Linked DNA regions of Homo sapiens. The protein of the gene in region 1 purifies or fractionates together with the protein of each later gene. This does not show direct contact. Each region holds a gene or a part of one and is shown on either strand. Other genes may lie near its edges.

Region 1 (3,500 bases):
AGCCCTAGCCACTCTGCTCAGGGGCATGCCATGAGTGGGCCAGCGCGCCCCATCCGTCTTGCTCTCCACAGGAGCAATGAGCCCACCAGCCCAGGTTTACTTTTCCTGGCCCCAGCTTTCCAGCCTCTCCACAGCCTGTTCTTCCTTGCTCTTAGTTTCTGATTGCTTTCCACCCTTCATCATGAACTCTTCTACAGCCAGGGAGGCCCTTGTGTTCCCATCTCTACCCCGGGAGCCTCTCGGCATCAGGCTCCAGACTTCTTCCTCTGTCATCTGCCTGCTGTCGTGATGCCTGCTGTGCAGACTCCCTCAAGTTAGGACAGAGTGCTTCCTCTGTGGAGTAGGGCCCTCCCTTTCCTTTCTGGGCATGCTTTCCCTCTGAGCCCACGTTGCCTCCAAGTCCTTTCTTAGTGCACCACTTGAGGAGTCACTGCCAGCCGGACACAGATGGCCCAAGACTAGCAACGGATTTCTAGCCCTGGCCTCAGATAATGGTTCATAGGCACGCCGGTCTCTTCCTCAGGTCATCATTGTCATCTACCTGTCCGTGGTGGGTGCCCTGTTGCTCTACATGGCCTTCCTGATGCTGGTGGACCCTCTGATCCGAAAGCCGGATGCATATACTGAGCAACTGCACAATGAGGAGGAGAATGAGGTAAGAGGGCTTTGAGTGCCCAGGCCCTGGGTCCCTGCATGTGCGTCCCCAGGGCAAAACCCAGAGGAGCGTCACCTAGGTCCAGGTCCCACCTCCCCAAAATGCTTCAAGTTGCTCTTCTGGTCAGTGTCGTACACATCACCCAGACTCAGCAGGGACCTGCTCTTTGCCCTTCCAGATGAAGCAGGACACCGGGCATCAAGCAGTCTCCATGTACAAGCCGGGGGAGCCATGTCATCCTGCTGTACTGTGCTTCCAGGCAGAGGGGGCGCAGCCAGCCAGAGCCAGTCACACATAGATACACATGATATCCCCCGTGTGCTCAGACATTGGTGACAAGCTGCTGGTGGACTGGACGGCAGCAGGTTAATTTGTTTGTCCAGTGATTCCACAAACATCTGTTGAACACTTGCTCAATGCAAACCAGAGCTCCAGGGTCTGGGGAGAAATGTAGGATTTCAAGAGCGGAAGAGGAATGAGACAGTGGTGCCGGGCAGGGGACATTGCCAAGTATGTGTGAGGAATTTTGAGCGTTGCAAGGATAGGGTAGAGATGTTTGAATAGTGGCAAAGAGAGCTGGCCAGTAGATTTAGGTCACATTATTAAAAGTCCCAAATGTCAAGCTAAGGGGGTTTGGCTTTATCTGACAAGGAAAGTGGGGAACCACTGACCCCAGACAGCCTGCAAGGCCTCCAGGAGTTCATGCAATGGTGGGGAGCTGGCAGGGCTTGGACCAGGCCCAGTGCAGTTAACAAGCGCTGTCACCGTCTTCCCATTCATCCTCATACTAAAAAGTTGTGGACACCATGGCGAGGAAACCCGGGGGGACAGGAGGGCTCAGGTGAAGGGCTCTTCGTGGGAGTGAGACGTGGTGTACCTCCATGCTGAGCAGAGTTGTGATGAGCCCTGCACTCCCCAGGTGGTCTAGGGGAATCTTGCCTGAGTGAGGACTGCACAGCCCCGTGTGCCTCGGGCTCCCCCTTTATGCGCTCATGTACCAGCTAGCTGGGTGCATGAGACAGCAGAGCGGGCTGCTTAGAGGCGTGGAGCCAAGGCAGGCGGGGTTGGCTGCTGCTTCCACTCTGAGCTCTGTCCCCAGGGCCTTGCTGCTGGAAGATACTCCTGTTTATTGACTGATGGAGGGATGCCCTGAGTGAACTCATGCGTATGCATAAGGAATATCTAGTCGGGAAGCGCCTCAGCTAGGCCTCAGAGAATTAGTTGAAGAAACTGAGAGTCATTTAGCTTAAAGGAAAAGAAAAACAACTAAAGGAGACGCATGATAGCTGCCTTCAGAAGTTTGTAGAAGACAGCTTGGCTTCATCCAGGGACAGAGAGATTTAACACAATATGAGGAGGAGGCTGGGAGTCTTCCTGTAGACAGCGTGGTCTAACTATGGGGTAGGTGGGCTGGGCTCCCTTGCAAGACCATGAGCCAGTTCCTCACCAAAAAGAGGACCCAGGGGCTCAAGTCTAAGTGTGAAGCTGCCTGGGTGATGTGGGTCTGGGCCAGCATGAACAGCGAAGAGAAGGGCAGATCAGGGAGGGAGCCTGGCTGCTCTCGAGGGCTGTGTTGCCCCACCCTGCGCACATGCCTGGACTGCTCCCAGTTTGCCCCCAGCCTCCTGCTGACATGAGTTTGGCCGAAGGTGGAGCAGAGGGGATGAGCCTCGCCCCATTGGAGCTAGGGCCTGGGAGGTGGTGGCACTGGCAGTTGGGTGGTCTGTGTTCAAGAGGAAACCTCGTGTGCCTACCTGGTTATTAATGTAGAGTAATAGCAGCTCTGATAGGGGAGGAGCATCGCTAATAAACACTCAGCGATTAGGGGTAATGTGGTAATTGCAGTCCTGGCTGGGGTAGTAATTGAGAGATGCAGCCCAATGATTTCCGTGGAATGCATGGCTCTGGGGCATGGCCTTGTTATGTCTCCTGCCATCCTAGCCAGGGAGCCAGAGGGAGGGCAGCTTGGGGAGAGCAGCTTGCCGTCCCTGGGTATGAACCCAGGTCTCTCTTACCCCCAGGAGACCTGGAGTGCTCCTCATTTGAAGCCTGTTTGTATGAGGGGGCCTTGGGAGGAAGAAGGGCTAGATTTGGTAACTGTGGCAGGACTGCCTGGGAGGACAGTAGGCTGTGATAGGCTGCAGCACATAGAAGCTGGCGAGCCATGCTCCCTCCTGTAGGGGAAGTTGCGGCCCTGGGATGGACAGGATGACACGCCCTCACCTCTCACCTGAGGTTCTAAAAGCTCATAAAAAGTTGTGTTTAATCTCTTTGATACCCTGACCTAGGGTGCAGCCAACTCTCGCTGGTTGTGGCCTGGGGCAGGTAGATCTCATTGGGTGCCCTTGGCTGGGTAAGGAAGTGCCCCCAGTCCCGTTCTTTGGCATCATCTCTCTATCCCCTCACCTCCTGTGATTCTGTGTGGTCTCCAGGTCACAGATGTCTGTGGTTCAGCAACTCTGCTTTTCTCAGTGTATTCAGAAAACCTGCAGGTGGCACAGTGTTGAGATTTGCACAGACCTTATGTCTGCCCTCGGGGGTTTAAGCCCCAAGACGGCCAAAAGCAGGTAAAGCAGCAGGAAACGTAAAGGCTGGCAGTAAGATCTGGCTTCGTAAGACGGGTGGTCAGCTGAAAAGTCAGGTGCCTTGGGAGGCCCCTCTTTACTAGACAAGGGGTCGGAAAGTTACCCTTCTCGTTGTGTTAGTCTGGGAAGGAAGGCTTCCTGGCAGAGGGGGATTTTCAGTGCCCACTCAGGGTGGTTGGGAGAGTGACCGCTGAACTGCAGGGAGGATGAACAGGGCATTGGGGCTGGACAGAACCCAAGGAGCTTGTCTTTACAGAGAC
Region 2 (3,500 bases), on another chromosome or scaffold:
GTCTCTTGCTTCAGAATGGAAATGTTGGTACCTTTGGTTCTCACTGAAACACTGTCTATACCACCATTAAAGAACCTGTTTGTGTAGTGGTATCTATCTCTTGTCTGTGTTATGTTCTTAATGTTCCTTTTATCTAACCTGTGGAAGATGGCATTAAACGTTGTTTTAATTAGTAACAATAATAGGCTTTCTCACTGTTTTGTTACCTTCAAGAATAGTTTTAAATTTAGTATTTTGGTAGGAAATTCAGAGATTTCCTAGATTTCAGAGATGGAATTGTATTTTTGGACATTTCCTTTCCTCTTTAAAGATCTTGAGATCTGTTCAGTACTAATAGATCTAATGCTTCTTTCTTATGCTTCCAGTTAGTTTGCACTTGTTACCCTATATATAGCTTCACATATGCTTCAGAAGCTTAAGCAAATTAAAAAAACAAATGGGGACTGTGAGAGTTTGAGACTGTTTTCAATTCTTGATAACCATTTTAGAGGAAAATTAAATAATGTATAAATTATTCAGACTCATCGCTATTTCAAGATTTTCTGCCATTTAGCTCCTTTCCTTAATTATCCAGATTTAAAGTTCTGAACTTCAAATAAAGGTTTATAAATGTCTTATCTTCTCTCAGCCCACTGTGCTCAGATATTAATCAAACCATCTAAATCACTGCACAAGTTTTATTTCATTCATGACGTCACACTGAATGTGCTCTCTCTCCTTAAGATTTCATTTGGTATGTCATTCATGTATAGTTAACAAACATTTAAAAATCTAATTACTCATTTTTAAGTTAATGTGTAACATAAATATACTACTTATATTTAAATGTAGTTCACCTTAACTGACATACTAAAGACAGATTTTAGCAAATATTTTGATTCAGAATGATACCTCAAACTACCATTTTTCTAACTGCCATAATCCTCTATTAAACTTATATAATCCATTTTTAGATTGTAAGATCTTAAAGAATACCTAAAAAAAACCCTCTTAAATGTTGATGAATTGTTTTTCCATTATAAAGTCATTTTTGACTTTTAGAAGTCAAGACTAATACATTTTCTAGAAAACAAGGTACAAAAGCACTTGTGATTAATGGTAGCACTAGATTTCTTTCAGCAAATCCTTAAGAGTACAGAGGTTGAGGGGACTTCTGTTGTTTGTCACATTCCGCATTTGAAACAACTCACAGTGACTGTCAGCCTAAGAATAGCAAATGTAGTCTTGCTTTTTGTTAAAGAGTTCTTACTTATACCTTATGGCATTTTTGTTGACTATTAGAAATGTAAATTGAGAAACATATAAACTCTTAAGTTCAGAGACGTAAGTTCATGGAACTTTTAGAGTTTAACAGTGTTAATGATTACTTAAGAAATTAAACTGAATAGCAGTTCTTTGTGCTTTTAACGAGTAGTTTTGTTTTTAAGGGCAGCATATACTTTTCCTACAATTTAGTGTTTGAAGGGTGGGAGAAGAGGAACGATTTTGAAAAGTTAGCGAATGATAAAGAAAAAAGGAATTAAATAGAACATAAGTTGGTTGATGCCTTGCAAACAACTTAGAGCAGAACTTCTTTATTATTTAGATAGGTCAGGGTTCCAGTTATACATGCTACCTAGTGTCTCCTTCTGACCTCATTATCTGTCTGAATAAACTTCAGATGGGTACTGGATGTATATTGACTACTGTCAAATAAAATGAACTTTGTTTTAGTTAAGGTCAGATATGATGTGGTTGGTATGTTTTGGAACATGTTTTTTCAGGTTGCATCTGGAGGTGGTGGGGTTGGAGATGGTGTTCAAGAACCAACCACAGGCAACTGGAGAGGAATGCTGAAAACTTCAAAAGCTGAAGAGTTATTAGCAGAAGAAAAATCAAAACCCATTCCAATTATGCCAGCCAGTCCACAAAAAGGTCATGCCGTGAACCTGCTAGATGTGGTAAGCCATGACAATTTGGTTTAGGTAATAAGGTAGGTGACCAAGTTAGTAGGAAAACGATTAGACAGAAAGAACTAAAAGTCTCAAAAACTTACATAACTTTCAGATGTTAAAGCTGCCATTTTAGTGTCACAAAAGTAATATTTTTTCCCCCTCATCCCTATTTAGCCAGTTCCTGTTGCACGAAAACTATCTGCTCGGGAACAGCGAGATTGTGAGGTTATTGAACGACTCATTAAATCATATTTTCTCATTGTCAGAAAGAATATTCAAGACAGGTTAGTATTACTTAATATAAATGACGGACTTTAATACTTCTGGATGATTCTGTGATCTGTTTTGAAAAATACATGTATTTTTACAATTTTAGGTTTTTATTCTAAATCATCAAGTGGATTTTCTGATAGTCCTTGGGTAACTTGTAGCAAGACCCATTTTGTTAACATAGAATGACTAGGACCTCATGTATCAGCTAGAAAAAGCTATTAAAAATGAGAGATTCTTTTGTTCTATCTGGCTGCCACATTTTGAGTCATTTAAGAAAATCTTTTTCCTAAATTTTAATTTAGTAGTTTCATTAATTATTTTGGCTAGTAACACTGACTTGCCTTTTTAATTTAACTTGGTTTTCCAAAGTATCAAAACGAATGTCTTTTACTAGGAAATATGTGTATTTTTTCTCGTTCAGAATGTTTTTTCATGTGTCTAGTCCCTACTGCATCTTCTCCTTCATGTTGCCTGGTATGTCATTTCATGCAGTAATAGGGAGAATATACATTTAGTTGTGTGAAGTGATCTATTAGAAAATATTCTGCATCCAGTTTTTGGTAATCTGTCAGCAGCTAAGATGAATTTTACTGCACAGAGTAATAAACAGTCTAATACTTCATATTGAAATAAATGATTTTTGTCTGTAGAACCATTTATCTTTTTTGCTTGTAGACTTTTTAAACCCGTAGCTTGTAGTAGAAATAACAGTTCCTAGTGTTTTACACTGTGGGCCTGAAGAAAAAAATTCCATTTGTTTCCTTCCTTGCCCCCATCCTCTGCAGAAGGTGTTTTTGAGATGGAGTCTCGCTTTGTCGCCCAGGCTGGGGTGCAGTGGCGCAGTCTTGGCCCACTTCAACCTCTGCCTTCTGGGTTCAAGCGATTCTCCTGCCTCAGCCTCCTGAGTAGCTGGGATAACAGGTGTGCACCACCATGCCCAGCTAATTTTTGTATTTTTAGTAGAGACGGGTTTCACCATGTTGGCCAGGCTGGTCTCGAACTCCTGACGTCAGGTGATCTACCTGTCTTGGCCTCCCAAAGTGCTGGGATTATAGGCGTGAGCCACTGCACCCGGCTCACTTAATGTTTTTAAGCCTCATCCATACTGTAGTATGAATCAGTATAGTCACGCACCACATAACATTTTAGTCAACAGACCACGTATTTGAATGTGTTCCCGTTAGATTATGATACCATGTTTTTGCTGTACATTTCCTATGTTTAGATACACAAATACTATTGTGTTACAGTTCCCTATTCAGTACAGTAACATGCTGTACATGTTTGCAGCCT

Evidence for each region. Proteins that work in one complex are often made in the same cells at the same time.
Region 2: the proteins of TMEM9 (region 1) and DNM1L purify together in Homo sapiens (affinity purification with mass spectrometry; one large-scale study listed by BioGRID and IntAct). This does not show direct contact.

What each region holds. Positions count from the first base shown.
Region 1 is NC_000001.11:201,140,975-201,144,474, reverse strand, and holds part of TMEM9 (proton-transporting V-type ATPase complex assembly regulator TMEM9 isoform a precursor), read left to right. Parts: intron 1-523; coding exon 524-655; intron 656-3,500. UniProt on the Homo sapiens protein: Transmembrane protein that binds to and facilitates the assembly of lysosomal proton-transporting V-type ATPase (v-ATPase), resulting in enhanced lysosomal acidification and trafficking.
Region 2 is NC_000012.12:32,738,301-32,741,800, forward strand, and holds part of DNM1L (dynamin-1-like protein), read left to right. Parts: intron 1-1,763; coding exon 1,764-1,940; intron 1,941-2,108; coding exon 2,109-2,218; intron 2,219-3,500. UniProt on the Homo sapiens protein: Functions in mitochondrial and peroxisomal division.